Linked DNA regions of Homo sapiens: region 1 is linked to region 2. Evidence: fine-mapped expression QTL. A gene starts in region 2. The other region holds a variant in brackets. All regions are shown on one strand. Distances are from middle to middle.

Region 1 (12,659 bases), 38 kb after region 2:
AGCCAGACTGGAGAGTGACAATTGCCTTCGCAGCTCCCAGCGGGTTTCGAGAAGGTAACATGACCAGGGAGCAGTTCTGCCTCCCTTCTGTCACCTCTGAACCTCACCTTGGCCCATGGCCCCTCAACCTTGACTGATGCTAAGTAAGCAGTCTCCTCCTCCTTATTCCCTGGCCAACCTGCCCAGCTCACAGTGGGGGCCTCAGCCAAGGGTTGTCAACTGCAGCCTGAGAAAGTCTTTCTCACTGACTTGCCCCAAGAAGGGATTCCACTCAGCTGACAATTATGAAGCTCTGGCTGGTCCCTGGTCCTGGGCAGGGGCAAAGCTGCAAAACAGCCCACAGGGAGCTCACAGTGCCTGTGGTAATGATGATGACGATGATGGTGATGATGCTGACAATGGTCATTATCATGGTGACGGGGTGGAGGACTTGGAGCCAGGAGACCTAATTACAAATGATAACTATGCCACCATTCAGCTGAATGACCTTGGGTAGGTTACTTACCCTCTTTGGTCTTGAGTGGCATTCACTATGACATGGGGTGGGGGAACCTGCTCTGTGGCAAGGGCTTTTTTTTTTTTTGAGACGGAGTCTCGCTCTGTCCCCCAGGCTGGAGTGCAGTGGCGGGATCTCTGCTCACTGCAAGCTCCGCCTCCCGGGTTCACGCCATTCTCCTGCCTCAGCCTCCCAAGTAGCTGGGACTACAGGCGCCCGCCACTACGCCCGGCTAATTTTTTGTATTTTTAGTAGAGACGGGGTTTCACCGTTTTAGCCGGGATGGTCTCGATCTCCTGACCTCGTGATCCGCCCGCCTCGGCCTCCCAAAGTGCTGGGATTACAGGCGTGAGCCACCGCGCCCGGCCGGCAAGGGCTTTTTTGAAATATTTGCCATAGAGCACTCTGCGAGGGTCCCAGGTGATACTGCACCAATGCCTAGTTCAGTCCCTGACCAGTGTGGTCCCTGACCAGCAGCATTAACAACTCTTGGGCACTTAATAGAAATGCAAATTCTCAGGCCCCAAGGCAGATCTACTGACCCAGAGACTCTGGGTAGGGCCCAGCAACTGCACATCTCACACTCTTGCCAAAGTGTGAGAACCCCTGGAATAAAGAAATGTCAATGGTGCTCTTGGGTCTCTTCACAGACGTGGCTCTGCTAGAGGACTGGCCTTTTGGAGCAGGAGTTCATGGCCCAGATCCATCTCTTAGGAGAAAGGATTGGAGAGTGGGACATTGAGAGGGAGGCCTTCTGTGCACCCCTTCATTCACCCACCAGAAAACCCAGGTCCACCATTGAATAAGCTCCTCCCCCAGTCCCATGCCTGCCCACGTGGCCCTGGCCTGACTCCACCCTGACCCTGCAGGCTGCACAAGCCTGGAGCCCTCCACCCTGGCCCCTGCAGGCCCCAGTCCTGCCGGCTCCTGCACCAGCCCCTCGTGTTGGCTATACTGCCATGGCATAGGTCCAGCTGGCATCCTGTCACTCCACTCCCTCCCCAAGGGCCCCAGGTCGACTGCTACACACCCACCGCCACTGCTCCCAACTGTGCTGCTTTGGGGGACTCCAGCATTCCTTTGCTCCCTCCCGCCCATCCTGTGGCTGTCTCTGCTGAGTCACTCTTTATTAGTGTCCTCCCAGACACCTGGCACAGGTGCCCCCAAGGGATTGGGCCAGAAGCCAATAGCAGCAATTGCTGCCATTTACCAAGTGCTGATTCTGTACTAAGAACGTGCGAGTTCCTTATATCAGTTATCCCACCACTCACAAACCTATGGATAGGGCCTCAGGACTCCCATTTTACAGATGGATGAATTGAGACTCAGGAAGGAAAGATCCCAGGGTCACACAGGGCCACATAGCCAGTGAGACGGGAGCCTGGGATTTGAACTCCTGCCTGTCCGGTTGCAAAGCCAGCTCTCTCTGTCACCCCACACTGTCTCTTCTAGAGAGCCCTGGGGAGGACGGGGGCCAGCCAGTGGGCAGCCTGGGAAGGGAGTCTCTGTAGCTGGAAATGGCCAATGTATTTTCTAGAAACAGGAAATCTAACATTGACCGTGAAGTTTGTTTCCTGGTCAGTTCTGTCTGTTCCCACTGACAGCCTCGTGATACTGACTTTCAGGGCACCCGATGAGAGGGGATGGAAGAAGGACCTCCCGCCTCTCCCCACAGGAGTGCTGGGTGAGCCCTGACTTTCCTCAGTGCTCGGATGCTGGGAAGGTGCTGGGGCCATTTCATTTGCTTGCTAAAGGAAACACTCAGGCCAGGGGGCCAGAGGATTTGGGGACATCAGGGCACAGAAGTAACAGGGGGCTTTCAAGCCCTTTCCCAACTCCTCCCCGAGACAGTGACCTGGCCTAATCCTGCAGCCCCTATGACCTCTCTGTCCCTGGGGTCTTGTGAGGGCTCCTGCAGCTGGGGAGCTATGCCTTCTACTGTGGTCCCCAGCCTGGCACAGACTCTCTTATGTGACTCCACCAGGGACTAGACTGGGGGCAGCTGAGTGCCATAAAAGAAGTTAATGTGGCCTCACGTTGGTGGTGAGTGAGGGGCTTTGGGTCTACCTGCCATCCTCTGCGTCCCCTCTGGCCTCCAGTTAAGTGACCCATCCCATTGGTCTCTGTCCACTGAGCTGACTGCCCCCCAGTACCCAAGACAAGTGCCACTGCTCCTGGTTCCCAGGTCCCTGTTTTGGGTGACCACCTCACCCCCTCCCTGCCTCAGCACCTCTGTGGCCCACCCCTGGGACTCCTGTGGGACACAGGCAGGTGTCATGGGTGGACAACAAGGAGCATCTCAGGTCCGTCCGCCTGGACGCCCCCCTCTGCCTCGGGATTTCGCTCAAAGCAGCCTCCAGCTCTTGGCCGCTTCCTCCCGCTGGTCTCACCCCCAACAAACCTCTCCCAGGCAAAGCATAGTGCTTTCTCCTCTGCCTTCCTGTCTCCCAGGAACTCACTTCCATTGTATCCAGAATTCCTTCTATTTATGGCTTACAGTAAAACTCTACGCTCAAAATCAGCCGGGATTGATTCCTTATATTTAGAAAGAAGCTTTGGAATTCAGAAAATTTTTTTTTTCTTAACAAAACCCGGCATTCAAGACTATTGTTTTGCCTAGAAGACAAAACAAAATGGAAAGCCTAATTTGATCGTCAAAGTGAACAACGAATTTATTATTGTAGCAGAATCCACCGCTTCCCTGAAGTACTCAAGCCATTGATTCAGTGGATGCCACAGAGCATCAAAATATAAGAGCAATTAAAAATACATGAGTTTTATTTTCTTAATTGTTAACTCCATATACAATGCTTAAAACTCTAAAAACTGGGCTTAATGTAATCTTAATTAGAATCATAAACACTATTTCAGAATGTATTTTAGATGTATATCCTTAAAAGTTTGATGCAAATATGATAATTTAGGGATGTGAGGCATCATATAAGATGCTTAATGTCTGTACCAGGAATCTGGACTAGGTTCGAGAATGGGAGATATTGACAACCTGGACTTGGTTCAAGTTTGCTTTTAATTTGATTTACTGCAGAAGCATCAAGGAAGCAATGCACAGGGGAAGGAGGTTGTAAGAAAGCTCCTGGGTGGACCATGGCTCCTGTGTAGCCCGCTGAATTGTTCTCTGACATGAGTAGTGTGAGACGCCAGCCAGGCTGGAGGGGCGCTGAGCTGCAGATGCGCCCCTTTTCTTCCCTGCCTCGTCAACACCCGGGTGTTAAGTTCTTGCCGCGTGGCACTGGGTGGTCCCCCCACATCTGAGGCTGCACTGCAGTCTCCCATTTATGCCCCTTGGGAACTTTACATGGACAGCTCAGGCATGGCCTGTCACACTGACAAGCAACCAAAATAATCTAAATAATAAAAGAAATGACTTAAAACAGTATCTTTTAGAATAATTATTGCTATGAGTTTCTTTGCAAATTCTGCAGTTTTCAAACATTAGTCCTCAGGTGGACGGAGCCACAGAGCAGCTGCTGCTGGCCTCTTCCTCCTCCTTCCTGCCCCACCTGGTGCCTCCACCCTCACACCCAGTTCCCAAGAGCCTGCCACTCAGGCCTCCTCGTGCCCAGACCAGACAGGGACATGTGTGGACTTCCCAGGTGTACATATCCCCACCATGGCTGATTTTCAGCTACCCACATGATGTCACCGAATACGGAGTTGTAAAGAGACGCACGCCACTACGTTTCCATCCCAGAGCTGCAACAGACACAAATAAGCTTAAGTGCATCGACAATAGTCAGATCAGATGCACAAAAACAATTAGAAAATGCTGAGTTTGTTTTGTTTTGAGACGGAGTCTCACTCTGTCACCCAGGCTGGAGTACAGTGGCGCAATCTCAGCTCACTGCAATCTCCACCTCCTGGGTTCAAGCGATTCTCCTGTGTCAGCCTCCCAAGGAGCTGGGATTACAGGCATGTGCCAACATGCCCAGCTAATTTTTGTATTTTTAGTAGAGACGGAGTTTCACCATGTTGGCTGGGCTGGTCTCAAACTCCTGACCTCATGATCCGCCCGCCTCAACCTCCCAAAGTGCTGGGATTACAGACACGAGCCACTGCACCCAGCCTGTTATTTAACTCTTAATAATGGCTGTGCTTAACAACTGGCCCACAAAATCCCTGCAAATTTAACAACTGGTTCTCAGGAGGAGCCGCACATCATTGGGGGGGCCTTGGTTGGCCACAGCAGCTTGGGAAAGGGGAGGTACATGCCCTGACACTAGTCCCAAGATGGTTACTTGACATTTCCAAGCAATATATTATTTAAATATGCATATGTTTTTGCTGATTGCTAGTAGGTTTTTTCTTTCATGAATGCACTTAATTTTGCCCAATGCAGTTAATTCACCAAAGGATGACTGGGCACTGACTATTCCCCCCAAAACCTCCAGCTGGTGCTCTAACAGCCGACCTTACACAGAAAGGTCAGAGAAGGAAGCAGTTCTTCAAAGCAGGCAGAATCGCCCTGACACGGATGGGGAGATGAGGGTGGCACACCTCAGGGCTGTGGTCCCTCCCTCAGAGAGAACCACATTGCTCCTGAAGGAGCTCAGGCTCCTTCAAAAGGAGCTGCACTTTGGCTGAAGCTTTGTGTAGTCATTCCTGTCAGCACATTCCCCATAATTCCCACAACCCAAGCCTGGCTTCATCAGAAAGTCCAGGCTGGGCATGGAGGCTCAAGCCTATAAATCCCAGCATGTTGGGAGGCCAAGGCAGGAGGATCGCTTGAGCCCAAAACTTTGAGAACAGTGTGGTGGGCAACATGGTGAGACCAGCTTGGATGGCATGATGGGACCCGCTATGAAAAATAAAACAAAATAAAATAAATTAGCTGGGCATGGTAGCATGTGCCTATGGTCCTAGCTACTCAGAAGGCTGAGGCAGGAGGATCGCTAGAGCCCAGGACGCTGAGGCTGCAGTGAGCTGTGACTGCACCATTGCACTCGCAGTGGGGAGATGGAACGACCCTGTCTCAAAACAACAACAACAACAAACCCAGAAACAGAAAGAAGTCCATGGCAGAGTGGAAGGGTCTGTCTGCCCTTGGGTCACACAGGTCTTTAATCCTGATGCCTGATATAGGTCAGTTAGCTCCTTTCAAGTTAGGCAACAAAACATCCTTCTTTGATTCTCCAACCAAGTGCCATCACTCAAGGCACGTGGTTTCCAAGCCCTCCAGGGCCTTCATCGGCAGTTGCTTCCCTTCGCAACATCGTGAGCGACACATCGTGGCTGAACTCCAAGGGGGACATGTGGGTGTAATGAGTCACTGCCAACACGGAAGGTCCAGTGCAAGCTAGATCGAAGCTGATCC[G/A]GGTGCCCACCCCAAACACAAGAGTAGCAGGGAGGGGAGACAAGCACCTACTGAGGAGACCAGGGCCAGTGGGGCCTGGGTGAATCTTCAATGGGGACAGAATCACCCTGACACGGTTGGGGAGATGAGGGTGGGGCACCTCAGGGCTGTGGCCCCTCCCTCAGAGAGAACCACATCGCACTCCTGCTCTGCTGGACTCGGGTGTGGCCACGTGACTCTGCCTGATGAGACATGAGGGCAGTGACACTCTGCCTGGTCAGTATATTCTGTCCCTTTGCCAGGAGACAGGGAAGGTTGCAGGTGGAGGCTACTCTGTCAGCCCCAGGCCCGAACAAAGACAACAGGAACAGTGTTGCTGCCAGCCCGCGATGGAATCTGGGGGTCATTTGCTCCCAAGCTTTGCTATGTCTATCCTGATTGACACCCAGGCAGGTGGGAGAGGTGAAGGAAGTTCCAGAAACCGAATAACGCTGGGCATGTTGGGGAATGGCACGAAGCCCAATGTGAAGGGAAAACAGGGTGGGTGTGTGTAAAGAGGAGCTAGCAGGGGGGACGGGATTCCTAAGGGCTTGGAGCTCTGAGTGCACTCCGTCCCCGCACCCCGACTCCATGTGGGCCCATGGCACCACTCCCTAGGGGACTGCAGCCACCCTTCCCCTAGAACATGGACAAGGGCTGGCCGGCCCTGAAGGAGCTTCGACCTACCTAGAGGAGGCAGGCACCCAGGCCAGCCACGAGTCAGAGACCACTAATTCCGCCAGAGCAAGCTGTTTGGGCACTGCGTCCTTCTCACGCGAAGGGCAAAGATCCCGTTCATCCACAGGGACTGCCCAGCAACAAGGAACAGCAGTCACTCCCTGCATAGCTGCAGGGCACTGTCGCAGACCATCTCCTCCATCCTCCACCATACCTGGAGCTAGTCTAAGATCACAAGAGTTGGTGTGTCTTCCCTGTAGGAAGAGGGCTCTCCCTTGAGTCCAATTCTTAACCTTCCTGTTTCATGGACTCTTCGGTCACCTGAGGAAATCTATAGAGCCCTCCTCAGAACAATATTTTTATTTATTTTTATTTTATTATATAATAATTATTATTATTTTGAGACAAGGTCTCTCTCTGTCACCCAGGCTGGAGTGCAGAGGTGCAGTCACCACTCACTGCAGCCTCCACCTCCCACACTCGAGTGATCCTCCCACCTCAGCCTCCTGAGTGGCTGGGAGCACAGGTACGCACCACCACACCCAGCTAATTTTTTGATTTATTTTATTTTATTTTATTTTATTTTATTTTTCGTAGATATGGTGTCTACCTATGTTACCCAGACTGGAAAATAATGTTTTTAAATGCATAAAATAAACCAGGTAGGATTACCAGGGAACCTAATTATTTGTTAATACGATTATCAAATCCTTTTAAAAATTATGATGCGTGCTTCTTCATTAAAACATTGAATAACAAGGATCTAGTAGAATTATATAACAATCATAATTTTTAAGTGGATATTTCAAAATATCTACAAGCAAAGTAATAGGATGTAAAACTCTCTGTGATTTCTATGGGTGACGAGTCACAGGCATTGCTAACATTGTTTGGTTTGTCCTCTACATTTATAACTGAAAGTAATGCTACATTTCAGCCAGAGATTAATGAAAATAAGGACATAAACTTTTGCCTATTCAAGTTCACTGACCCTTTCACTCCTAGCCCCATCCTGGCTGGGTGCAGTGATTCATGCCTGTAATCTCAGCACTTTGGGAGGCCAAGGTGAGAGGGTCGCTTGAGGCCAGGAGTTCAAAAATTTTATGTTGCCTTGGCATCCATTTTGAGACTAAGTGTTACCTAGTGAGACCCCTGTCTCTACAAAAAAGAAACTTTTTAAAATTAGCCTGGCATGGTGGCACATGCCTGTAGTCCCAGCTACTTGGGAGGTTGAGCCAGGAAGATCTCTTGAGCCCAGGAGGCCGAGGGTGCAGTGAAACTTGCACTGCAGCCTGGGCAATAGAGTGAGACCCTGCCTCTTAAAAGAAAACAGAAAAAAAAAAATGGATTTCCTCTGGATTCACTCTCTCTACTCCCCAATCAGTGCCAATGATGATGATGATGATGATGATGAATGCCGCTCGGTCAGGCCTCAGTGATTTCACCCTGTACATTCTCAGATGGTCCTCTGGCTCTCTAGTTTACCCCTGGGGGAAGCACTTGTCTCAATGAAATGTTGCAATAAAAACTGAAGGGGAGGAGTGGGGAGGGGTGGTGCAGGAGCCCCACAGCCCTGGGTCCAAGGTGAGGCCAAGGGCAGCCTCTGCCACAGCCTGTGTCGGTTTCTCAGGAAGCCTTTTTCTCTGCCCATCCGTGGTGTGGTGATTGCTTAATTGTCGCTAAAAGGATCAAATTCAAAGCACTCGGCCTCTCTCCTTCATTCTCTTGCCTCACTCCAGTTTTTAATCAATCTCTCAGCTGTCAGCTACACCGAGTGCCTGAGGGTCTGCTGTGGGCTCTGCCTTTTCTGAGGTTGGGTAGGGGGTGTCCTCCTTGGGTCCAGCTATTCAATCTGACTCAACAAACAAAGCATTTCTTAAAACAAGTCTTCAAACATGCAAACAGTAAAGGAGAAGACTGATTCATTCTACCAGGTTAAAATTAAGATCATAACATTCATCAAAAGACAGTAAAAAGGAAGTCTCAAACTGGGAGATAATATTCCTTACACCTGTGAGTGACAAAGGGCTAGTATCCAGGATGCATAAAAACTCCTACAAGTCAATTTCAAAAAACAACCCAATACAAAAATGAGGGAGAACAATGGTCAGGCATGTCACAAAAGAGGCCCACAAGAAGGGCAAAGAGACGTTCGCAGAGATGCTCAACCTCAGCTGTGACCAAGAAAACACAAAGTGAGACCATAAGATGAGATTTTGTGCTCACTAGATGGACAAAACTCAGAAATGTGACTATCCCAAGGGTTGGTGAGGAAGTGGGTGAGCACCGGGGATCTTTACACAAAGCTAGAAAGAGGCTTATTCGACTGTTTTGGAAATTTGGCAATCTCTGAAAAGCTGAAGATACGTGAGCTTTGACACAGCAACCCCACTAGCATAGCCTAGTGCCTGTGCCCAAGCCTGCGTATATGACAAGGCTGATAGCAGCGCTTTTTGTAACAACCAAAATCGGGAGAGGGAGTTGTCCTTTGACTGAAGAATGGATAAATAAATTGTGGCATAGTCCCGGGTGGAACATTACCTAACATTGCAAAGGAATGAACTACAGGTACACCCAGCAACAAGGATGATGCTTAGAGTTGTAATGTGGAGCAAAAGAAAAAGCAAGTCACAAAAAAATGCCTCCTGTGTGACACTATTGTCATAAAAACCAAGCAAAACTAAACAGACTATTCAGGTAGGGCTCATAGACATGCTATCAACTGCTTTTTAAAAACAAGGGAATAAATGAGATGCTATTCAGGGTAGGGGCTGCCTGGTCAGGGAAGAGGACAGGATCACCAAGGCTTGTGCAAGTAGATTCACAGGTGCCAACAATGTTCTACGTCTTAAGCTGGGTGGTGGACTCTCAGTTTCAACAAAATCGCTGAGTAGACACTGAGACTGACTCCCAGGCCTGATGCCTGGCAACATACCAAGCCCAGGACACAGGGTCACCCTCACGGAGGGTACTGGAAGCCTTAGAAGTAACCTCAGAGAGGCAGAGAACATGGTGGGCCCCAAGGCGAAAGAAGGGAAATGACAAATGTCTCCTGCCACTCAGATGCCAGGTCTCTCCACAGCCTTTCCCACGTAATCCACACAGGCAATGTGTTAAACAGATACCAATCACGTCCAGCGCACAGATGGGCAAACTGAGGCTCTGAAAGACTAAGCTGTTTCTCCAGGAAGTGCCAATGGGAAGGGCTGGGGCTGAGACACCTCCAGTCCAGGTCCCTCTTTCCACACCATCGACGTGGTGCTGTGGGGATCAGGAGAGGCTTTGATGAGGAGGTGACGTTGGAGACATGTCTGGAAGAATTTGGAGGAGTCAGTGGCAGAGGAGCCTGGATGGCAGAAGGTGGCCTGTGCCCTGGCAAAGTGTGCAGCAGTATGGCTCGGGGCACAGTGAGTGGGAAGAGGGACAGAGCCTGACTCATGTGGCCCAGGGTCTGCCCACGATTATTGACTGTCAAGCACTGAATGAATGAGCGTGTGGGTGGACTTGGCTGGAGCACAGGCTGCACACGGACAAAGAGCTACAGCCGTCAACTGCAGCAGCTGCAACAGTCCTGACCCACCGTCCCCACCCCAGTCCACTCTCTCCCGCTAGCCAGGGTGAGTTTTGTAACACATAAACTGGGGCACATTCTTGCCCAGATCCAAATCCTCCAATGTTGTCTGTGATATAGTCTTAAGTGGGGGGAAAAAAGAGCAAGGAACAGAATGGTGTGTTAGTATACCACCATTTATGGGTATTTTTTGAGACAGAGTCTCACTCTCTTGCCCAGGCTGGAGTGCAATGGCTCACTGCAACCTCTGCCTCCCAGGTTCAAGCGATTCTCCTGCCTCAGCTTCCCGAGTAGCTGGGACTACAGGCATGTGCCACCACGCCCAGCTACTTTTTTGTATTTTTAGTAGAGACAGGGTTTCACCATGTTGGCCAGTACGGTCTTGAACTCTTGACCTCCAGTGATCCACCCACCTCAGCTTCCCAAAGTGCTAGGATTACAGGTATGAGCCACCATGCCCAGCCCATTTATGGTTTTTAAAATTACATAATTACATCTATTTTTTTCTTATGTATCCAAAAGATCTCACTGGAAGGACACATCAGGACCTGGTTGCAGTGTTGACCTCTTAGGGAACCAGATGGCTAAGTGGGACAGCCATGACTGGCCATGTGCTTGCCAATCCCATTTCCTCTTCCTGGACACACAAAAGTCACATTTCCCAGCTTCCCTTGTGGCTAGGCTGGGGCCTTGTGACTTGCTCTGGCCAATGGGCAGTGGCTGGGGTGATGCATGTCTCTCCAAGGCAGGCCGCTCCTGACCTAGGTGGCCCCTTGCCCTGCAAGTGGCAGCGCAGGGTCTTTGAGCACTTTCCAAAGTCCATTGCCTGATTTCTCTGTTCTGCAGAGCATTTTTCACATCCTGGTCACTTTCTCGTTTATTGGTTTATCTTCCTATTAGCGTGTAAGCTCCACTAGAGCAAGAAGTTCATCTGTCCTGTTCATTTCAGTAAGCCTAGCACTTAGAGTGGTACCTGGACTCTGTAGGTGCTCAATAAAGGTTTGTTGAGGGAATGAATGAATGAATGAATGGATGAGTGCAGGAATGAGTGAATGCCTTTAAGATTGGCTTATGATTGACATTTATGAAGTTGTCTGCCTAGCGTCCCTTTAGCAAGAGTTGCTCCTTCCCGTTCCCTCCACGTGTTGCCCTTGCAGTTGGGGACTTGTGCTTCCGGCCCCAGCTGACTGGCTGAGGAATGAGTCCCTGGCTGAGCTGGGTCAATGAATCCCTTCCCTGGGATCTTTGGACTAGATGGGATAAATAGAAATCAACATAGACAGAGCCTCTCCGTCTGGGGTTGAGCCTGTAACGCTAACCTCGGAGCTGTCAGTCTGGGCTGGAGATGCTGAGGGCACGTGTCTACAACAGCAGACAGGGAGGCAGCTGCTCCTAGGCAGGAGCCAACAGGAGAAACCAGAGAGGCCCCAGTCCTGCTGGTTCTAGGCCCTGCTGTGTTCCTCTTTTCTTGGCATCATGAAGCACCTCAGGCCCTAATAACAAGTTGAGGACCAACAAGAGGCTCTGGAGCTTGGATTCCAGAGGAGACATTTCCCAGCCTTTGGGAGGGGCGTCCTGGAAACCCTCATTGTGCCCTGCTCTGAGATGGCTTTGGGGCTTGACCCCTGCATGTCCACTCTCAGATTCCTTTCCTCCCCCTCCCACCCACCGCCACCATCATTCAAATGTCCAAAGCCTCAGGTAGTGGGAAGGAGGAGTATGAATTCTGGAACACAGGCAAGGACTGATGTCTTGTTCGGGAACGTTCTGGCCACCACAGCCTAGTGCTGCTGTGGAGGAAGGAGGAACGGCCCCGACCCAGGCCTGCCAGTGGACATGGCAGCCCGGGGACAGAGATCAAGATGTGGGAGCTGAGAGCAGTCCTGGCCACCAGCAGAGCATGGCATCAGGGCATTGTGACAGAAATGTTCTTGCCTGACCCCAGCCCCAGGACGGCTGTCCCCCACCCAGATCCCCGCCTGCCTCCCTGGTTCTCCCTCTAAGCCTCCACCTCAATGCAGGGGTCAGCAGGTGCCCACTCATAAAGCCCAGCTCACTCCCCAGCCTTGGGGGAACGCACACTCGGGCTCTGCTGCCCACCGCATGCTGCTGTTCATGATCCCTCTCTCTTCCTCTCGGACAGACACACACACACTACCCCAAATATCCACCTGCCCTCTGAGCACTGGCATCTGCTGTCACCCCCTCCCTCCCAGGGAATGGTCTCAGCCATCCACCGGTTATCCCAGCCAGAAGCCAGGCACCCACTTGACTCTGCCTTTCCCCGCTGAGCCCTCCTGCCCCACTGCCCTAATACCGCAAGATTCCTCCTATTTCCCCCCCTCCCCTCACCTTAGACTGCAGGCCCACCCCATGGCCTACTCAGACTCTGCCTGAGTGGTCTAGCATCCTCCCCTGCTTACATCTCTTTGTGGCCCTGGGAGACATCCCGACTCCTGCACCCGTCATGAGGCCTTTGCTGATCTAACGCCCACCTGTGCACTGGGAATCTTTGTAGCTTCATGAGGTTCACCTATGAGGTTAGCGCCAGAGAAGCCCCACGT
Region 2 (12,659 bases):
AGGTGAAGGCAATTTCTCCATCCCTCTATCTGAGCTGGCTTCAAGACTTGCTGTGACCACCAGGAATACAGCAGACGTGATTTTATTGGACTTCCCAGGAACGCCTCAAGAGGCCTTGCAGCTTCCCCTCTCATCCTCTTGCTGTCCTGAGGCCACCACATAAAGAAGCCTGAGCTTGCCTCTTAGAGGATAAAAGACCATGTGGAGAACGAAGCCCAGCCGACAGCCAGCACCAACCCCCAGACCTGTGAGCGAGGTCATCTTGGACTACCCAGACTAGTTGAGCCATCAGAGTGTTGCAGTCACATAAGTGACCACAGGGAAGACCACCAAAACAACCACCCAACAGAGACCTGCCCAGAGAATCATAAGCCATAAAATGACTATTGTTGCCAGGCACGGTGGCTCATGCCTGTAATCTCAGCACTCTGGGAGGCTGAGGCAGGAGGGTTGCTTGAGCCCAGGAGTTTGAGACCAGCCTGGGCAACATAGTGAGACCTTGTCCCTATTTAAAAAAAAAAAAAAAGCCAGGCATGGAGATGTGCACCTTTAGTCCCAGCTACCCACAAAACTGAGGTGGGAGGATCGTTTCAGCCCAGGAAGCAGAGCTTACATAAGCCAAGATCACGCCACTGCTCTCCAGCCTGGGTCACAGAGGAAGACCTTGTCTTAAAATAAATTTTTTTAAAAAGACTATTGTTTTAACCCATTAAACTTTGGGGTGGTTTGCTACATAGTAAAAGCAAATATAATGTGACATTTTATAGACATTTCAATAACTTGTTTAATGCATTGATTGTTTTCCCTGCTTGGGAGCCAATAAACCTTTTTATTCAGATCTCAATGAGTCATGGGCCCCTCAGAAGGGGCTAAATCAGCCCTAAAAGTAACAATGTCTCTAAGGACCCTACTGAGATTGAATAGAAGTCAAGGGTTGATCCACAATCCAAACTCCAGGGAGGGCAACCCGCAGCAGGTGCACGAGGAACCTGACCTAATGTACAACACGGAGGAGGAGTCATTTCCAAACTTCAGACAGCTCCTGAGGGACACAGAAGACTCTCCAACACCCCAAACCTAGGCAAGACTCCAATCTTTCTGGCTATGAGAGGCTCGATAATAGCCCCCTGGTACCGATGACTATGTTATCTCCTATGGGAAAAGGGAGTCAGCAGATGTGATTAAATTAAGGATCTTGAGATGGGGAAATGATTACACAAGTAGGCCTAATAAGAGGTCCTCATACAAGTGTCCTTAGAAAGGGAATGGGAGGAGGAGGGGCAGAGTCAGAGAAGGGATGTGGCAATGAAAGCAGGGGCTGGAGTGATGGGCTTGGAAGATGGAGGAAGGGGCCACGATCCAAGGAATGCAGGTCACCTCGAGAAGTTTGAAAAGGCAATGAAATGGATTATCCCCTAGAGCCTCCAGAAGGAATACAGTTCTGCCAACACCTTGGTTTTAGCCCAGGGAGACCCATTTTGGACTTATTCCTGACTTCCAGAAATGTAAGATAATAAATTTGTATGGTTTTCAGCCATTAAATTTGTGGTAAGTTTTACAACAGCAATAGGAAACAAATGTACTGGATAATTCCTCCTGCCTACAAGAATGTAAGTTGGGACATTTATTCATAATAACAATAACAGCCAATAATAATTGCTCATATTAATTCAATGTCTACTTCATGCCCGGCTCTACTCTGAGTGCTTTTCATATAAAAACTCATTTAATTCTCATAAAGGCCATATGAAGAAGAGACTGTTATAATCCATACTTTACAGATGAGAAAAACTGAGGCTTTATGGGGTTAAGTAACTTGCCAGGGTCACAGAGCAGGTCAATGACACAGCACAGATTTGAACCCAGGCAGTCTGGCCCCAGATCTCACATTTAACCACTACGCTTCCCAAATCAACCTAACAATGATAATAAAATGACTGGAAGTTACTGAGAGCCCTCTGTGTACCAGGCTCATACCTAAGCTCATTACAAATACTCTCTCATTTCATTCTCACAGCACCCCAGTAGAGCAGAGATTATTAATCGTCCTTGTCTACAGCAGAAAAAACAGATGCAGCAACGTTAAACCCAGATGTTACAAGCATCTGAGACCAAAGCCCAGGTTTACCTGCACACCCTACTGCCTCCCTCATCCGTCTTGAGGCCCGGATGGCTGAGAAGACAAAGATAAGGAGCGCAACCACATAATTCACCTTCCAAACTGAGATACTTAGAAGGTGAAAGATATCATTATTACTAATTTCACTAGGAAAAGAGGCATAAACTAGAACTATTCCAGCAAACCAGGACATATGGCCACCCTAAAAATAAGGGGACTAAAATCAAGGCAAAAACTCTGCAGCTCAGGATTGCCCAGAAGGGGTGCCATGGAGCAGCTGCCAGCCCCGCAGGACATCTGCGGCTGCCAGGTCACGGTCAAGGCTGGAAGAAGAGGGGTGGTCCTGGCAGAGCTCAGAGCAGCATCTGCAAAGCTGCAGCCTGGGAGTCATTTGCAATGACAGGAACGCAGCAAGGATCAGCAGGGCCCGCTTCAGTGGGGCAGGTTTCAATTCTGAGCACTGCCTGTGCTTCCTTGGTCGTCTCCTCGCTGGCCCCGCTCACTCCTGGGGATGCCCAGGCCTGGGGGTGCCCGCAGTGGCAGGCGCTCACTCATTCCCTGCCACACGCTGCTCATTCATTAAAAGCCCCTGATTCCTCCCCGCTGTTCTAATTATGCACAGCAGTAATAAAGATGCTTTCTCCCTTACCAAAGAGGCCTATTTATATGAAAAGAGAGCATTTCGCCCCCACAAGATTGAGTCGTCACTCCAGGCCTTATTGGAATCAAAGCAGCTTCTCTTCTGAGATTGTCCAAGCCCTGCCTGACTCCCCTCCAGCTTGGCCCACTCCTGAGCATCCACATTTCCAGGAGCACCACTGCGGAGTGGGCAAGATGTAGACGCCATTGCCCTCTGCTGTGTTCCCTCATGTCTTGCTGACTGACACTCAACAAAAAGTAAGACATTTATTGAACACCTACTAGTGTCCTTAGTAAAAAAAAATGGAAATGAAAGACATAGTCCACGCCTTTCTCGGAAGAAAGAGCATTGAGAGAAACAGCACAAGATTTTAGGCTCCATGGCTGACTCATATCCCAACTCCAGCATTCACTGGTTGGGCAAGTTAGCAAGTTTTTCAAAGCCCTCAATTGCCTTATCAGCAAAATGGGGTAATAATAATGCCAGCCTCACAGGGTTGCTGGAGGAGTCAATGAGATACAGGCATACAAAGCTGGCATATCGTAGGGCCTCAACAAACACTAGTTGGAATTATCAACCATTAAGTACCGAAGGCTTTGGGACCACACAGGCAGATCTCATCCCGATGGATGAGCCCAGGAAGGCTTCCTGAGAGGTGATACCTTAACTGAGTTTTGAAGGATGAGTAGGACCTTGCTAAACAAAGAGAGGATGTCCCAAGCAGGGAGGACTGCATGTGTCCAGGGCCAAAGGCGATCACAAGGCTCTGGGAAACACAAGACACTGTGTAGGGACATACACAGAAGGCATGGGAGGACCACCAAGGCGGCAGACAAGTTGCAGCAGCAGATGTTGACACGGAAGTGGATCCCATAGCCAGAACCCTAACCTGCAATGCCCAGAGCATCACCCTGACCTTTGCTTACTTCCTTTGGGGGCTATAACCAGCGCCCTGTCACTACCATCTACAGCTTGGTGGCTGAAGGAAGTAGGGCAGCCACTCTCTATTAGCCGCAGGCCTACTCAACACAAGTCCCTGAGGGCCTATGACATGCCAGGCACATGCCAGGAGAGGCTGTTCAGCTTGACCACCTGGGGCCTGCATCCCATGGCCTAGGTCCTTACCTAGGCCCCCTTCCAGCTGTGCGCTGCTAGGACTGTCAGCTTTTTCCTCTGTGAAATGGGGATCACAGGGCGTCCTTCATAGTCATTCATTCAACAACAAACGTGGTCAGGGCTAAATGAGATAACTCAATATTCCCAGGTTTCAGCACACACTAAGTCCTCAATAAAAGTGAACGTTTAAAATGTTTATTTTTATTAAGATGAACCTCCAGGATGGCATCTCCAAAGCCCAATGCCAGGCCTCGAGAGATACCCTCAACCCAGGCAAAACTGCCTGCCCACCATCCCTCTCCTCAAGCCCGTGCCCTGGAAAAAATGACTTGGTTTCCACTCTTCATGTCTAGCCCTGACTTGGTCACCATAGGAGCCATCCCTGTCCGAACCACTCTGTCCACCCCCAATTCATCTCACCCTTCTAGGGCTCCATGTGTCAACCCACTCAGGTCATGCGGGAGGGGGCAGGATTGAAGGTCATCTCAAATTTTGCTGTCCAACACCCAGACCCTCAAGTGTGGCCCTTCAGATTTTGTAAATTAAGTAATTTAAACATCTTATTAAGAAAATTTGCAAACATACACAAAGTAAGCAGAATAGTAATGAACCGCCGCTCCCCATCACCCAACTACCACATTTTGCCATTCTTGTTTCATTGGCACGCACCTCTGCCCACTCCCCACCCCACCCCAACTGCACTTGTTGGAGAAGATTTCATGGCCAGCCTTTCTGACACCACCCCCCAACACCACCTACCCACCAGCAAACCCCTCCCCAACCCAGGACTGCCACTGCTCACAAATTCCAACAGTGTGATATTTGTGGCACCCATCCTTTTGTACCAAAAACATTCTGGAAATCCTTCCCAGGAAGCACAACCATTTTTTTATGTCCTTAATAGAGTGGTAACCACTGCACACATGCATAAGGGCTGTATGCACAGGTTGGTGCCCTGGAATCAGATGGCCTGGGTCCCAAACAACACTTCCCAGATGTGTGACCTTGGATAGGTCACTCAACCTGTGTTTGGATTTCCCACCCAGGAAGGGGAGAATGCTGGTAACAGGTTTGTTGTGAGCCTTTAAAACAATAAAATAATGCACGCTCTTTTCCCAGCAATGAGGAAACCTTAGAAATAAGTGTAGGGGCCAGGGGCAAGCCAACTCTGCTCCTATGCAATACTATTCACATCCTCCATTTTACAGATAAAGGGAGAGGTGCCCAGAGGCACAGTGAGCTGCCAGGGACAGCCCGCTCTTCAGGTTGGTCTCTGTCCTAAGTCCATGCACCTGGAATTCTCACTGGCCACCTTGAGCTGGAGATGACTGGAAGTGAAGAAACAAATACTCCAGAACAAACGCAGAAGAGCGGTGGCAGGTGGCTCGGCACACCAGGTATGGGTGTCCCCATCCTGGACAGGATTTCTCCCAGCACCGTGTGTGTGTGTGTGTGTGTGTGTGTGTGTGTGTGTGTCTGTGTGTGTGTGTGTGTGTGCGTGTGTGTGTGTGTTAGGATAGGGGTGCTGAATTTGATTTACAAGACAAAACAGTGTTGGGAAAGGTGTGGGGAGTGGGTACACATTCCTGCCCACTTCTGATTTGACAAATCCTATGCCCAACCTTGTATTTGGTATCATCGCCCACCCTATCCCAGCATGAGAGGCAAGAAACTGGCTCAGTAATTCTCAGGCTTTAGCAATTCAACGCCCCTACTTATCGTCCTAAAAATTTTTTTATTTTCTGACTTAAAGGAAAAAAGTAAAAAAAAAAAAAAAAAAAAAAAAAAGAGTCAATCCAGTTGCTGAGTGATGTTCAGACAAAGACAGCTGCCAGTCCATTGCCTGCGTTCACCAGCTGAGGAAGAGTACAGGCGGGGACTGGGTGTGTGTTTGGGGACGGCCTGGGCTCTCCGCTGCCTCTCCCTGGAGTGAGCCCTGTCAGGATCCCCCACCCGCCACCCTGCACTCCCCCACCACTGCAGTGCCGCGTGGGGAGGCACCTCCCTGATCCGCAGGAACAATGGGCTGGGGTGGGGGCAGGTGCGGCTTGGAGTGCAGCAGAGGGTGGGGGCCGCAGGCCCGACAGCAAGACAGGGAACCCAGCGCAGATGGTGGCTGTGCTGCCACTGGACTCAGTTTCTCCAGCTTTTGGGGCCCCGCAGAGCCAAGCGCTCGTTTCGTGGCTGAATCTCCCTTGCGTCCCGGCATTTTAATATCATCCTCGCAGGCGGCTTGCCTGTCGCTCCCGGGAAAGATGCCTGGGCCGCGCTCCTCTCCCCGGCGGCCGCTCTCGCCGAGGCCCTGCAGGTCAGGGACGCGCGGCGCCTCCATGCGCCCAACTTTCCCCACTTGGGACCCACAGGAAGACTGGAATCCTGGCCAGCCGGGCCCTCCGTGGGAGAAGCCTTGATTTACAGCCCTGGGCTCCGAAACCTGCTCGTCCTCTTCCCGCAACCCCCTTCCCCGTCCTCTCCGGCTCCCCCACCCTTCGGAGCCCTAATCACGCTCCCCAAAGAAAGCGGCCCTAGCACATCTGCAAAATGCGAGCGTCTGTCCTCCGCACTGGGTGCCTCCCCCTGCCCCCCGCAAGGAAGGGACCATCGAACCCCCGCCGCTTCACCCTTCCCCAGCCCAGTGAGTCCCTGGGGATGGGCGGGGAGGTGGGTGAGAAGCCCTTCGGCCGCAGCTGCAGCCCCCACTCCTGGCTCGAGCGTCCGGCCGGGGTGGGATGGGGCGAGGGAACAGGTCCAAATCTCCGATTTCCCCCAGGCTCCCACTCCTGCCTCGCTGAGTCACGAAAATTACCCGCTGGGGCCACCCGGCCACCCGGCGGCGGGCCCTTTACCCAGCCAGCGCCGGCCTCCGCAGCCCATCGCGCGGGGGCTGCACACGCGGGGCGGTCCTCACCCGCACGCGCGACCAGCCCCGCAGGAGGCGCCACCCGAGGCAGGGACCAACCAGGCGCCTCAGCGGGGGCTGCAGTCCCCGCCGCGGAGTCCGCACCCTGGCGGGGCGCAGAACATGTGACCCGCGGGCCGTCTCCGGTCCACCGGACCCCGGCCCCCGGCCCCGCTGCTGCTGACCCCGGCCCCGCCCGCCAGAACTGGATGCAGCGCGGGCGTCCCCACTTTTCCACGGCGCGCGAGGGGGTGCGGAGCGTTGGGCCAAGCGCGCCTCCTCCCTCCCTGCCCCGCCAGCCGCGGCCGCAGGACCCGCAGCCTGCGCTCACCTCGGGGCCCGTCGCTGCCGCCGGCCTCCTTGTCCGCCATGGTCGCGCAGCCCCGGACCGCGAGGGGAGCCTCCAGCGCAGCGCCCGTGCCCGTGCGGGTCTCTGTCCGCGTCCGCGGCGGCGCTCGGGCCGTGTCTGAGCCGCCGGGCAGCGGGAGCGCTGCTCTGACGCGGCAGCCGCCGCAGCCACGGCTCCTCCCCGGGCCCCGCCCCGGCCCGCCCGGCGCCCCGCCCCTCCGAGCTCGGGCCGGCCGGGAAAGGTCGGGGAAGGCGGGCGCGGGGAACTGCCTGGCTCCGGAGCTGCGCTCCCCGCCCGCCCAGAGCGGCCCGCCGAGGCCCGGCCTCTCCTCTCCCGGCTTCGGGACCGAGCGGTCGCCCCGCAGTCGACCGCGGCGGGGGTAGTGGCGCGCCCGGGGCTGCGCTGCGGGAGCGGATTTCAGGCCCTCGGGGCCCCGCGGCGCGTCCCCTCTTTGGAAGTCACCGAATGGCCAGGCCTGGAGCCCTTCAGCAAGCCCAGCGCGCCCGGCGCTCTCCCGAGGACGCCCGCGCCAGTCCCCACCAGCTTCTGTCTGTCCCCCAGGGTCCCAGGGGAGCGGCCCTGGGCCGGCGCAAAGGCGGGCTGGGTGGACCCCGGCGCGGGCAGGACCCAGGCCGCAGACCAAGGACCTGCGCGGGGGCCGAGCCCGGGGCACCGCCTCCAGGCCGCCTGCGGGACTCCATGGCAACTCCGGACCCAGGGAGGTGCTTGCCCCGGAGGCTGAGTCGCGCCTTCCATATATGGGATCCAGCTGGGCCCTCCTTAGAAGTCTGAGAATAACGATATTAATAATGCAAGGCTTCAGTTGTGAATGATTCATACTCCCTGTCCCCAGCTCCTCCACACACACGCGCCGCTGGCACCTGTTTGGGCCTGGCCAGGCACCCCCTGGGTCCGCGGTGTCACCACCCTGCCTTGGCAAACGAGGGCAGTAATAGGAATCCGAGGAGCACCGTCACTGGGTCGTTTCCGGGTGCCTGGCACTGTGCTACCTGCCTGGTGCTTTACCTCTATCTCCTTTCCTCCCCATAACTAACATTTTGCAGATAAGGAAGCTGAGGATCGGCAGGGTTACAATATCACACCCAGCAGGTGAGTCGCGGAGCTGGGATTCCCACCCAGCTGTAACCACCAGCATCCCTCACTTCCAGAGATGGGTGGCATTTCCCAAAGATCACCTAGGGGAGGCTTCATCGTACAATCCCGTTCTGGATGACGGAGTGGGCAGAGAGCTGCTGCGAGAGCGTTATGGATGACGGAATGGGCAGAGAGCTGCTGCGAGAGCCTGGAGACCAGAAGGTGATGGCAGAGTGACAAGTTCAAAACACAAAACTTGTCTTCTGTCTGCCTGCATTAAAAATCCCAAATGGACAGTTCCTGGCTGTGCATGAAACCACAGTCAAGTTATTTAACCTATCTGAGCCTCAATATTCTCATCTGCGAAATGGGTATAACAGGAGAACCCACTTCATAAAACTGAAGATTAGATAGACTATGCATGTAACATGCTTAGCTTGGGATCTAGCACATGGTAAAAATCATTAAGTCACTGATGGCCCCCGAGGGCCCTTCCTGCCTACGTGCCTGCGACAGCCTGCCCACAGCTCCCCCGCCCTCCTGTCTCACCCCTTCAGTCCATGCTTTGTGATCTGGTCTGTCCCCACCCTACTCCAGCTCCAGCTACAGCCGCTCTGATTCTTCAATCCCTCTCACCCACCCCTGCTTCTCTTATGCTGGTATTTCAAAGACATGAAAATGTGCTTGATGCCTGGATCACCCGTCCTCTCATTTCACCACCACCAGCAACCTAAGAACTTCTCCTTCTCATCATGGACTGCCCAACTCCAGGAAGGCTCCCCTGCATACCCATGCTGGCCAGGGGGGCCCTCCTCAGTGTCCTCAAGGCACTCGTTCCTCCCCATCAGACCAGGGCATCAGGACATTGGCCTTGACAGCCTGTCAGAAGCAGCAGAAACCCGTAGCCCCTGCACATCTGCCTCCTGCTGTGGAAGGGCCTTGGGCGCCACGTGCCCTCATGGGACTCCCAGCCACAGTGACATGAGGGTGCGTGAGAAGGATGGGAGGTGACATGCAGGCCCCAGTGCTGGGGGCAGAGAGCAGAACACTTTTGATTTGCAGGGGAGCATGAAAGGCAGCGCACACTCTGCCTGGGATTTGCCCTCACGGCCTTCATGCTCATCACACTAATTACAACGCGCCCTGCTGAGCACACCATCCAGCCCGCCAGCGAGGGGCTGTTGTGGTCTCACCTAGTTCTCATGGTGGCCCTTGCGGTTTTGCAGGAGAGGAAAAGGAAGCATTCAAAGGCTGAGGCACCTGTTCAGGCATCCTCTGGCCATCAGCAGCAAGGCTGGGGTTCAAGGCTCAGCACGCCACATCAAGGAAGGGTTCCCACCTTCCTCCCTGGAGTCTTCTTCCCCAATAGCAGCCAGAGAGAGAGCATGTCATTCTCCTGCTACCAGGTCCTACACAAATTGGCCTCCTGATGCCTCAGTGACCTCAGCTCCTTCCACTCTCCCATTCCCCCCAAAGCCCAAACACACACAGGCCCCACCTGGGGGGTCACTCCCCCGGACACATCCTTCAAGAGAATCAATCACGTGGCTTGCTCCTCCCAGAACACTCTATCTAAAACTGCTGCCTCGCCCCCACTGGGAAGTAAGTCCCAGGAGAGCAAGATCGTGGACTGTGTTGCCAGTTCTGCATCTCTGTGTCTAGAACAGCGCCTGGTACATGGCAGGCACTTAATAAATCCTTGATGCTTGACTGGCTGAATCAGTAAGTGAAGCGGGAACACAGCCCAGCACACAGACATTCTGCTGACCCCCAGGGCTCATGCCTTTCCACAGCCCCAGCTGTCTCAGGGCACGCCCAGACTCCTGGGAGGTTGCTCTGTACCAAGTTCCCTCAAGCTCCCCTCCAAAGACTCCTCCTCACAGTGCTCTCTGTGGGTACACTGCAGCACCCTCTATACCATCTCTTCTCCACCCTCCACACCCTCCACAGGCTGTAGACTGTGGTAGCTGGTGGAGAGAATGTTACACATCTCGGTTGGATACTCAAGTCCTAAAAAGTGGCCCAGCCCAGAGCCAAGTGACCACCTTCTAGTTCCCTTCCTGCTGGTCACTCCAGCTTCAAGGGCCTGCCCTCAGGTCCCCAAAGAGCCAGTGCCTCCACTGGAAGCCGATTCTCCTCTAGTTTTGCCAGGTAACCAACCCTGTCTCTTCCTACAGGCCTCAGCTTGGATGGCACTTCCTCCAGGACACCACCTAGCCCTCCAAGATCACATGAGGCCCCTCCTCTCTCCTCTGTGCCCAACCCCCCATCACTCCTATCTTAGCACTTATCACAACAACTCCAAGGTCAGTAGTATTGTTAACCCCATTGTACAGATGACCAAACTGAGATACAGAAAGGTCACTGAGCTCAGAAGCTGCAGTGCTGAGACTAGACCTCTGAGACCAGAACTCAGGTCTCTCCAGCTTCAGGTCACCCACCTCCCCCTCTAGCTGCCAGCTCTCCAAAGTGGGACCAGCCATGTCCACATTTAGAGCCCCCAGACCCTAGGATGGTGCCTGGCGCAGAGAGCAAAACATTGATGGAAAACAGCCTCCTCAGCTTCAGGCCTTTCTCATCCTCTCCGGGATCCCGTTCACCCACAGCCCCACACACGCTTCCCTGCCAACAGACTCCCTCTCTGCTCTTCAGCCCCCAAACAAACCCCCACCACATCCATTCATGCAAATAGAAGTCAGAGTCCAGAGGCAGGCCCAGCTAACTGCACCAGACAGCCAGGGCACTCTGTCACCTGCTATAACTACCAACTGTGGAAAGGGCTGGACATGATGCACAGCATGGGTAGGGGAGGCAGCTGAGTCCTCTGGCCCCCAGCTCAGAAGAAACTGAGGATAATTGTTGATGGACCAGATGCTAAGGGCAGTGAGCCCTGGGGGATGCATCAGGACCAAGAATGAGAAAAGTACAACAGGAGGAAGCAGAGAGCATGGGGTCAGCTGGACCAGGGCTCAAGTGGGCTCAGCTGCTCCCTGCCCACCTCAGGGGACCTGGGACATACCTCTCTGGGTCTGTTTCCTCACCTGTCAAAAGGGCCCAGTAATGATAGGTATCATAATTATAAGAGATCATATATGTAAAACATTCCATTTAGAGTCAGCCTATATATGCCACTGTTAATATGACTTATTTAATTTATATATTTGAACACAAAAATGCCATTTCCTTGTATATTATAAATTACAGAATGGATCCAGGCAAGATTTTCTTGGCTGATAAAGACACACAGAAGATATGAGTAGCTTTTTCCATTTTAATTTTTCTTTTATGTTTTTGTTAAGCTTAAGAAACACTGATATGAGTTCATATCTGAACTTTGACATAGGACACTGCCCGTCAAAGCTGCTTTGGACTTTAGGATATGCCAGCGGAACGTTGTCCATGAACTGAATATCATAAAAGAGACTAATTCATAACAGGACCAAGATTCAGATTTGCTAAAGCAACATAAAAACTTGCAGAGAAAACCTGGGCAAATGTCAGCCGCCTTGACCTCCAACTGTCAGTGCATTTTAAAAAGCCAGCCTTACAGCTGAATCATGGTGGCCAGTGTATACATCCTCCCCACCTCACTGGTCTTCCAGTCCATCTGGTGTGAATCGGTCTCTCCATTAACATTCCAAAACAACCTTCACATGTACAATGTGAGCTGCTGAGCCACTCTTTCAGGCAAAAATTCAAGGGCCAGAGGAAATTATTGCTCCAAATATCACCATCACTCAGGACTGCAATGTAAACTTTAGAAATGCCTTCTCAGGTAATGGAAGGTTATCCAAATATTTTTCGTAAGTATTTCAAATAGCAATGGCTCGTCTATGGTTAGTCTCGCAGCCACATTCTCAGAACTGCTCAAACCCTGGCCCTGCAAAGCTGCCGGTTCATTAATAAGACGGGACATCCCGGAAGCCACATCTCAAGGAGGACAATGCAAACTGAGACAAAGGTTCAGAGAAGAGAAACTGGCATGATCACGTGACCAGGAGAGTTTTCACAAGGGCTGCAACTCACCAGACACTATGAGAGCCAAGGGTTTCATGTTATGGAGAAAAACAACTTTCCTCTTCTCCAGCCCACAGCCCAGTGCCTGGCTTGCAGTAGGTACTCAGTAAATGTTTGTGGATGGAATGAATAAATGGTCCAGTAAATAAATAATGGAGGCTGGGCATGGTGGCTCATGCCTGTAATCGCAGCATTTGGGGAGGCCGAGACGGGTGGATCACTTGAGGTCAGGAGTTTGAGACCAGCCTGGCCAACATGGTGAAACCCCGTCTCTACTAAAAATACAAAAATTAGCTGGGCATGGTGGTGCGTGCCTGTAATCTCAGCTACTTGGGAGGCTGAGGCAGGAGAATTGCTTGAACCTGGGAAGTGGAGGTTGTAGTAAGCCAAGTTTGCACCACTGCACTCCAGCCTGGGCAACGAG

Which allele goes with the higher level. Alleles are on the strand shown, and positions count from the first base shown. SD is a standard deviation of normalised expression in the study named.
In carriers of allele A in region 1, the expression in lung of the gene that starts at base 7,242 in region 2 tends to be lower than with G alone (small effect, 0.17 SD a copy in GTEx).

Evidence for each region. PIP is the estimated chance that this variant, and not a neighbour inherited with it, causes the effect.
Region 1: its variant is fine-mapped to the expression of HSPA12A in lung (TOPMed, PIP 0.98). The same link has a PIP of 0.9 or more in fibroblasts.

The regions. Positions count from the first base shown.
Region 1 is chr10:116,773,445-116,786,103 of GRCh38, forward strand. LOC105378498 (a long non-coding RNA gene) reads right to left here and starts at 556. Exons shown (of 3, transcript XR_946339.2): 1 at 108-556. It also overlaps a transcript of HSPA12A not described here. RefSeq lists enhancers at 1,432-1,931, 5,251-6,450 and a silencer at 11,354-11,520. The variant G/A (reference allele first, on the strand shown) is at 5,829.
Region 2 is chr10:116,735,325-116,747,983 of GRCh38, forward strand. It overlaps HSPA12A (heat shock protein family A (Hsp70) member 12A), which reads right to left and starts at 7,242. Exons shown (of 12, transcript NM_025015.3): 1 at 7,106-7,242. The coding sequence starts at 7,145. RefSeq lists enhancers at 7,107-7,811, 7,812-8,515 and a silencer at 7,107-7,556.